Linked DNA regions of Homo sapiens. The protein of the gene in region 1 interacts with the protein of each later gene in a biochemical or structural test. Each region holds a gene or a part of one and is shown on either strand. Other genes may lie near its edges.

Evidence for each region. The genes of interacting proteins can lie anywhere in the genome.
Region 2: the proteins of GRAP2 (region 1) and ASAP1 form a complex in vitro, tested with the Homo sapiens proteins (one study listed by IntAct).

The regions. Positions count from the first base shown.
Region 1 is NC_000022.11:39,903,167-39,908,065, forward strand, and holds part of GRAP2 (GRB2-related adapter protein 2), read left to right. Parts: intron 1-4,899. UniProt on the Homo sapiens protein: Interacts with SLP-76 to regulate NF-AT activation. Binds to tyrosine-phosphorylated shc.
Region 2 is NC_000008.11:130,114,244-130,119,142, reverse strand, and holds part of ASAP1 (arf-GAP with SH3 domain, ANK repeat and PH domain-containing protein 1), read left to right. Parts: intron 1-467; coding exon 468-654; intron 655-896; coding exon 897-982; intron 983-2,147; coding exon 2,148-2,263; intron 2,264-2,397; coding exon 2,398-2,465; intron 2,466-3,128; coding exon of another isoform or gene 3,129-3,311; exon of another isoform or gene 3,312-3,329; intron 3,330-3,407; coding exon 3,408-3,515; intron 3,516-4,899. UniProt on the Homo sapiens protein: Possesses phosphatidylinositol 4,5-bisphosphate-dependent GTPase-activating protein activity for ARF1 (ADP ribosylation factor 1) and ARF5 and a lesser activity towards ARF6.

The DNA of each region.
Region 1 (4,899 bases):
TTCTTAAATAAGTAACAGTTGCTGCTGGATAATCCTGGGGGCAGATGATTCATTTTTGTGCCCCTATCAAACAAACTCAAAACTTGTTAAAGAATCTTTATAAGTTGTTTGAATCAAACAATAGGGTCGCTAGGTCCCCATTTTGTCCATTTGAGGTATTTGCCCAGCATACCTTGGTCTGTAAAGAAATAGCACAGCCTTGGCTGGGCGCGGTGGCTCATGCTTATAATCCTAGCACTTTGGGAGGCCGAGGTGGGCAGATCTCCAAAAATAAATAATAATAATGATAATAACACAGCCTCATGAGTCTTTTTTTTTTTTTTTTTTTTGAGACAGGGTCTCACTCTGTCACTCAGGCTGGAGTACAGTGGCACAATCACAGCTCACTGCAGCCTCAACTACCCTGGGTTTAGTGATCCTCCCACCTCAGCCTCTCAAGTAGCTGAGACTACAGGTACACACCACCACACCTGGCTAATATTGTATTTTTAGTAGAGACAGGGTTTTGCCATGTTTCCCAGGCTGGTCTTGAACTCCTGAACTCAAGCGATTCGCCTGCCTCAGCCTCCCAAAGTGTTGGGATTACAGGTGTGAACCACTACACCTGGCCTGCCCTTTCTTTTCTCTTAAAAATTCTTAAGAAAGCATGGTCCTGTTTAACAAATAAGCATTTTACAAACATTTATCGATCAATTACTATATGCCAGGCCTGGCACTAGGCACCAAGTCCTCTTCAACAGTGTTAACATTAAGTTTCAATAAACTTGAGTCAGTAGGAATTCAGTAAATAATTTTTAAAGATTGTTTTCTTTTTAAATATGTATTTATAAACAAAAATTTTAGAGAATTAAAAGAAACTATCACGAAGTGCATGATGATAAAAGTCTTATATACTCTCCAAAGAAAATGTTAAGACATACCTTAAGGAGATAGTGAAGAACAGCCGGGCACAGTGGCTCACACCTGTAATCCCAGCACTTGGGCGGCCAAAGCAGGCAGATCATCTGAGGTCAGGAGTTGGAGACAAGCCTGGCCAACATGTTGAAACCCTGTCTCTACCAAAATACAAAAATTAGCCGGGCATGATGGCAGGCGCCTGTAATCCCAGCTACTTGGGAGACTGAGGCACGAGAATTGCTTGAACCCGGGAGGCAGATGTTTCAGCGAGCTGAGATCGTGCCACTGCACTCCAGCCTGGTCGACAGAGCAAGATCCTGTCTCAAAAAGAGGAAAAAAGAAAAGAAAAGAAAAGATAGTGAGAAAATAACTGAACATAAAACATAAAGAAAAGTTGAAATATTAGTACTCACTACCTAGGTTCAACAATTGCTAACTCTTTGCCGTATTTGCTCCATCTATACCTATTTCTTTCTGAATTACTTGTAAGTTGCAGATAAAATAATACTTCACTCCTAAATAATTCAGTACTCATCTAAGAATAAAGGCATTCCTCTATCTAACCACAATTCCATCATTAGGCCTAAGAGGATAAACAGTAAGTCCTTAATATCATCTGATAGCTAGTGCAGATTTAACCTTCCCCATTTGTCCCCCAAATGTCTTCTATACCATTTTTTAAAAAAAGAATCTAATTTTTAAAAATAAGAACATATTTTGCAGTTGGGTCTCATGCTTCTTTCTTCAACATTGGATGTTTTTAAAGATTACGCCAGTTCTCTTGTACCAGGTCCCACTTTCTGAATTCGTTGTTGCCTCATGGTTAATTTGTTCCTCTACCCACTTTATTTCTCATAAGCTCCAAGTTAGGACTAAAAGCATGATTTGATTTTGATTGAACGTTTTTTGCAAGGTGCCACTGGGTGCTCCATATTGCATCTTATCAGGAGGTACAGAATGCCAGGTTGTTCCACTGTGCATGATGCCAAGTTTGATCAGGGCTTGAGGTAGTGATCTTGCTCAGAGGATCTCTTGTTGTACAGGCACTTTTTCACCCTTTGCAATTAGCGAGTACTCTCAGGGGGTATCTCAAAGTGTATCTCATAAACACTTTGGCATGGTGGCAATATCCTATTTCCCAACAAACTCTCACCCGGTGACTTTAGGTAATAATCTTTGCCTAAATTGATTATTTCATTGGAGTTCATATATATTTTTAATACGCTTTGAAGATGGACTCGACATGCAAATTCATCATTATCAGCAGCAATAGTGGCTGGAAATATTTATTGAGTGCATAAGTTCAGGTAATAATAATAATAGTAGGTAATGTTTATTGAGTGCTTGCTGTGGAGCCAAGACAGCCTCGGTGTGAGCCCAGTCTTTCACTTACTAAGCGAATGAACTGGGACGAGTTATTCTTTTTGTGCTTCAGTTTCTTAAGCTATAAAATGGGATTACTAATGGTGCCTATCTCGTGGGATTGTTCTGAAGAGTAAACGATTTATACATTTAAGGTTCCTAAAACAGTGCCTGTTATTATTGTTATTTGCCAAGCATTGTTCTAATACTTTGTAGGTACTAACTCGTCTACTTCTTCTAATGGTGCAATGAAGAAAGTGCTAATAATACCCTTTTTTCACAATGAGGAAACTGAGGTACGGAGAGGTCTAGTACGTTGCACAAGGTCACTTAACTAGTACCTGGTGGAGCCAGGATTTGAACCCAGGCTGTCTGGTTCCTGAGCACTCTCTCTGATGATGGGCACATGCAGTGAGGAGTGATACAAGTGGAGCTGAGTGGAAGTAGCCCTCACACACACTCAGACTTGAAGTTATTGAAAATCCGGGAGGTTGCCACCCAAACACATTTAAGGTTTAATTCATCTGAATAAGAACAGCATTCCACTAAGCCCAGATAAGTACTCTTATTACATTTACATAGCTTAAGGCTCTGTACAAGAAACCTTGAACATAAAATACTTGGAACAGAAAAGAGTAGGAGAACTATGAAGTAATGGGGGGAAAAAATCCCTGAAAGGAACAATACAAGCGGGGAGTTATGAGACCTGGGACCTCAGAGCCTCGGGGTGGAAGATGATATTTTGATATAATCAGGAGGGAGAAATTTCCTCTCATTTTTCACATTTCTGTACTATATAAGATTTTACCATAAAACGCAAGAGTATAAGCCATTGTCAGATTTATAAAAGGCCATGGTGGATTTCCTTAAGAGACGATGGATGACTGTTGTTAGTAGGTAAATTCCCTGGTTGGTTATCTCATACACTCAGATATTCCATAAGTCAGCCTGTGGCTTCTGAAACTGTATTGAGAAAAAGCTGTATAAACTAGGTGTTGGTCCATGCTCCTTCATTAGCATTACAAAAGGGTTCGACTGCTGAGTTGAATCTTATCCACTCCTTCAGTGGCCATTACAGAAAGCTCTCAAGTGTAATTTTCTAAAGAGAACTAAAAATAAATAAGAAAAAAAAAATCCAGCATTAATAATGGTTCTTTTTGCATTTCCAACACAGTCATTGCCAAATTGGTTCTGCCTTTTTATGTTTTTTAATGAAAAGCAGCCTAATTGATCAATTGGTCATGAATAATACTTCTTCGTTTGTTTTTCTCCACACCCCCCAGCCTTCTAGAACCACGGGCTTAATGTGTCGGCCTACAAATGGTTCATGATTTGTGTTTTTTGTCTAGTGCTTTATGGGAAAATATTAGAAACAAACTGCTGAGAACTCAGTAGGAACTCAGTAAATAATAAGTAGATAGTTCTCTTGTTAAATATGATTTTAAAGAAACTCTTTCTAAATAACTAGGAAATATTACAAGGGAAGTACAAAGTGGGGTGGAAAGCCTGGCTGACTTGTAATTTGAAATTTCTCTTCATCATTTTATAGGTCACACAGTTTAACCCTTTATAAAACAAAATGTAAAGTCTGATAGCTGAAAAGGCTCTCCTCCGCTAAATAGATTTGTTTGAAAATATAGATCATTAAATCGGTAAGAATAACAGGAGAATCTCAACCAAACATTGAGACAACTAAGAAAATTGTCTAAATCTAATACCTTATATCAGTACTTTAAGTTGACCATAAATACGCTGATATCCATAGCACATAGGTTCTTACTGGCAGTGGTGGGGTGGGTGGGGGAAGGGGAGTGTCACAGACACATTCAAGATGTCAACGAAAACTATGAAAACTCTCCCCAATGGGGAAAAAAAACCAACGATGCCTAGCACTTATCCTACGCAACTTTGTACAGAATTTCCGTGGGAAATTCTGGTGTCCATCCATCATAAATCACCTGGTGTCCACCCATATATCCTGAATAGGAAAAATTGTCTTTCTCTAGAGTTATTGTACACTGATCCTGATGGAGCTTTAAAAAGAGTTGTCGTACAGGCTCATTGACTTTGGGAGGACAAGGTGGGAGGATTGCTTGAGCGCAGGAGATTGAGACCAGCCTGGGCAACATGGTGAGGCCCCATCTCTACAAGATATTCTTTTAAAAAATTAGCCAGGCCCAGTGGCCCGCACCTGTAGTCCAAGTTACTCCAGAGGCTGAGGCAGGAGGATCCCTTGAGCCCAAGAGATCAAGGCTGCAGTAAGCCGTGTTCACACCGCTACACTCCAGCCTGGGCAACAGAGTGAGATCCTGTCTCAAAAAATAAATAAGTAAATAAAAAGAGTTGCCATTATCTTGTTTGATCTGGCTATGATCTTTGAGGTAGACAGACCACAGATTTTACCTCTCATTCTGCAGAGTGGGAAAAGCAAGGCTTGGAGAGTTTCCGGGACTTGCTCAAGGTAATTTGCTAATGTCTGCCGGGACGTAGCACCAAGCCTGTCACGCTGTAGGCTGGGCCCCTTCCACAACACTGGTCCAAACACAGGATTCTGGAGATGCAGGAGCCCTCGATGGGCTTCTGGAAAGCTGAATTCTGGCTCTACCAGAGCTACCCACGTGATCTTAAACAAGTCACCTA
Region 2 (4,899 bases), on another chromosome or scaffold:
GCGAGACCCGATCCTTTTAAAAATTTTACAAAATAAATAAAAAATAGAGAGTTATATCAGACGACCAAAATCCTTTCCGTGAAGCTCTGAAAACTTTTAATTGGTCTTTCAGAATGTGTTTAACTTCTTAAATTTTTAAATTTATTCATATGCTTATATATCAGAGTTTGAAGTATTTATAAATAGTTGATTTCTCATGCTGTTGGTCAAGGTGAAAAAGAAATCTGTGATTTATGTGCCCGTTTACTTTGTAACTATATCTATTACTTGTATATATTAGTAAACATATATTATTTTCTTTATTCTGTCTCTGTTGGAGTAATTTGGTCTAAAACCTGGTTTATTTGAATGGTGAAAAGAAGCGTATCTTAATTAAAATAACTTCTCAAAGAGAAATGTTTGTCAGAAAAATGTAAACCTTTCCTAGCACTTGGAAAATAAAAATTCTTTATTTTGTTCTGTTTTAGGACTGTACGAAAAGAATATATCACTGCAAAGTATGTAGATCATAGGTTTTCAAGGAAGACCTGTTCAACTTCATCAGCTAAACTAAATGAATTGCTTGAGGCCATCAAATCCAGGGATTTACTTGCACTAATTCAAGTCTATGCAGAAGGGGTAGAGCTAATGGAACCACTGCTGGAACCTGGGCAGGTAAGGCCTCACTAAAATCATTGGATAAAAAGTAATGTGGAAAATCAGTTTAAAAGGTGACTTATTTTAACATTATACCATATAATGAGATTCTTATACATTGGGTGGCCATGTCTAAATCAAGAGAATATGAGAGTGAAGAGGTGTGCTCCTTATAATTACTTGGGGGCAACTGATATATATGAAGCCTCCCTTGGCAGAGCATATTATTGACTTACTTATACTTTTCTTTCCCTTTTTAGGAGCTTGGGGAGACAGCCCTTCACCTTGCCGTCCGAACTGCAGATCAGACATCTCTCCATTTGGTTGACTTCCTTGTACAAAACTGGTATCGTTTTTGTTTTCTCTGTTGAATTACCTGAATATGCCTTATAAATTAACACAAACCAGTCCTATCAGTGGCCTAGATCGGGAATTGGCAAGCTTTTTCTGTGTCATGCTAGATATAAAAATTATTTTTGGCTTTGCAGGCATGAAGTCTCTCTGTCAGAGCTATTCACTTCTGCCATGGTAGTGTGAAAGCAGCCACTGACAATGTGTAAACAAGCAAGTGTGGCTGTATTCCAATGAAACTTTATTATTTTGTTTATAAAAACAGACAGTGAACCAGATATGGCCTACAGGCTGTAGTTTGCCATCTCTTGGCCTTTATAAATGTAAAATTATGTCTGTATCCAAAAATCTGCTGCACAGATTGGACACATTTGCTAACCGTTAGGAGAGGTTAAAAGAGAGAAGACTTAACAGCACAGGTCAACCATATTTGTGAGTTTTCATTGTTCCTAAATTTAATATAAGACAGCAGCAGTGTGTGTGGCTGGATCAATAGCTCATTCAAGTTTGGGATATACTGATGGAAGTATAAGAGTGAATATAGGAAGTTTGGACTTGCTGGATTCTTTATTCTCTTTATCTGTTCTGTAAGCAACAGATGATGAGGAGGAACTAGAGCTCATCTAAAGAAGAAGATCAAAATAGTGAGGGGATTTGAACCCATAGAGGAAAAATGGTACATAGACACAAGCCAAATTGTATAAAAGTCCAGGTTTCTTCCTCAGAGACAATATAGCATAGTGGCTCAAAACATTGGCTCCAGAGATAGATTACCTGTGTTCAAATATCCCTGCTTCACCATCCCTATCTTGAAAATCTTGAAAGCAAGCACTTCAGCCTCTCTGCGCTTCAGGGTTTTTTATCTGTAAAAGCGGTTATTATTAGTATTTACCCCATCATATAGTTGTAAAGATTCAATGAACTAATACATGTAAATGTTAAGAAACAGTGTCTGTCCCATAGGACCTGGCACTCTAAATAAATACTGCCTGTTATCACTGTATTGCTTATAAATCTAGGTTAGAAACATCATAATTTTCTCTATTATAATAATTAGGTCTCAAATTTGACTCAGTTGTCAGCACAAAAATAAGTGGCTAATCTATAGTTTTAAGTTATAAAGTAAGTCATTTTTTTCTAATCATCATCTAATTTTTCAGTGGGAACCTGGATAAGCAGACGGCCCTGGGAAACACAGTTCTACACTACTGTAGTATGTACAGTAAACCTGAGTGTTTGAAGCTTTTGCTCAGGAGCAAGCCCACTGTGGATATAGGTAAGAGTGTGTCTAGTGTCTTCATGACTGTAGTAAGCGTGTGTTGCATGGTACATTGTAATTTGATTATTGTTCCTTGCCTTCTTAAGGTGTTTCCTAGATAATTATGCAAATTAATTTTTTTCCTATTTCAGTTAACCAGGCTGGAGAAACTGCCCTAGACATAGCAAAGAGACTAAAAGCTACCCAGTGTGAAGATCTGGTAAGCAAAAATGGACGTGGGAGATTTATTAGACATTGGCTGCCTTAAAAGTGTCATTCTGAGAAGCTAGAATTGAATATTAAAAATGCAGATTCATTTTTTTTTAACACTTGCTAAAGAAAATCAGATGAGCAATGTGCTACATTAGAAAAAGTGGTAAAATGATAAATTTGTCATCCACATGTTTTTGGAATGCAGTTAAAGGAGGTGAAAGGCATTACACAAGTATTATTACCAGATCGACTTGTGCATTGAGGTCATGCTTTTTATTTCCCAGACCATTAGACTTTCTCTGCAGCTTAATAGTAAAGAATTATTTGAGAAGCTGCTCCAAAAATTGGGCAAGTAAAGCTCAGAGAGTAGTGGTCTTCAAAATGTTAACACACTGTTCTCCCAGCCCCTCCCCTTCCTGTGCACATTCACCTTTTTTGACCCTACTAGTTCTTGCTTAGCAAGTCAGGGCCTTCACATTAGTGTGATTCTCTTGAGTTTCTGCTAAGTGCCAGGTTCCAGGCCCACCAGTTGGGCCTTTTTATTCTTAAAAGAATCCTTTGAGACAATTATCCCTGCTCCCATTTTATGAATGAGAAAATGGGGCCACAGATTGGACTGGGACCTTAAAAGCCTACGTCTTAAACTTCAAAGACTCGTTTTGCCTTTCAGCCAGGAATTTGCAAGTTTGAGGCCCATTTAATAAGAAGAAAGCTTTTAATTTTGGAGACAAGTCATCAAAATAAAGAAGGCTCTGCCTGCAATTGTTTGCATTTCTTCTTGAGCCTGTCACATAGCAGTGCAGCTTGTCTAAGCAGAGTGTTGCCTATAGTACACCTACAGATGATTCATTGAAAACTAGGAATAAGGTGGGATTTGCTCAGTGTTTGTATAATATTGGGATGTTTCAGCATTTAAATTAAAATGGTGCACATTTGCTGTTCCTTCCAGCTTTCCCAGGCTAAATCTGGAAAGTTCAATCCACACGTCCACGTAGAATATGAGTGGAATCTTCGACAGGAGGAGATAGATGAGAGCGATGATGATCTGGATGACAAAGTGAGTGTAAATTATGTCCTCGAATTCTCAACAACTACCCCAACTTTTCTAGTCTGTGTAGACAAGATCCATTTTTGGTGAGATTGATTGATTGTGGTTTTATGATCCAATGTATCAGGGCCATTTATGTTGTTCAGTCCTTATTGGGCACCATTTAACAGCTATATTAAGGTTGTCCAGAGAAACAGAGCCAACAGGATAGGGAGAGAGACAGAGAAATTTTTTTTAAGGAATTGGCTCACATGATTGAAGGAGCTGTCAAGTTCAAAATGCACAGGGCAGGCCAGCAGGCTGGAAATCCCAGCAGGAGTTAATGTTGCAGTCTTCAGGCTAAAGACAGTCTGGAGGCAGCATTCCTTACCCTTTGGGGGACCTCAGTCTTTTTAAGGCCTTTCTTTGGCTGATTAGGTGAGGCACACCCACATCATGAAGGGTAGTTCCCTTGACTCGAAATCTACTCATTTAAATGGTAATTGCATCTAAAAAATTCCTTTACAGCAACATCTAGACTAGTATTTGACCAAACACCAGGACACTGTAGCCTGTTGACACATAAAATTAACCATGAAGCTAGGCATGGTGGCTCATGCCTATAATCCCAGCGCTTTGGGAGGCCAAGGCAGAACTATCGCTTGAGACCAGGAATTCGAGAGCAACCTAAGCAAAATGGTGAGACCCTGTCTCTACAAAGTAAATGGATCAATCAATAAAACGTGGTGGTGCTATTTGACAAGCTGAGGCAGGAGGATTGCTTGAGCCCAGGAGTTTGAGGCTGCAGTGAGCTATGATTGTACTACTGCACTCTTGACCTGAATGACAGAGCAAGACCCTATATCTTAAAAAAAAAAAAAAAAAAAATTAACCTTCAAAACAAGTAATTAGTAAGTAAATAACAGTTGTTATTTATTGAACATAATCATGCACTGTATAATAACATTTCAGTCCACAACACACTGCATACTCAATGGGGATCAATATAAGATTAAAACGGAGCTGAAAAATAGCCATCACCTAGTGATGCCATAGATGTCATAATACGGTAGTGCAACACATTCCTCAAATGGTTGTGGGATGCTGGTATAAACCAACCTACTGCACTGAGTTGTATAAAAATGTACAGTAATGTCCTAGGCCTTCACTCACACCCAGAGCAGCTTCCAGTCCTTCCAGCTCCATTTATGGAAAGTGTCCTACATAGATGTACCATTTTTTAATCTTATATAACATGTTTTTATTTTACCTCTTCTATGTTTAGATACACAAGTAATTACCATTGTGTTACAGTTGTTTACAATGTTTAGTATAGTAGCATGCTGTACAGGTTTGTAGCCTGGGAGCAATAGGCTATACCATATAGCCTAGGTGTGTAGTAGGCTCTCCCATC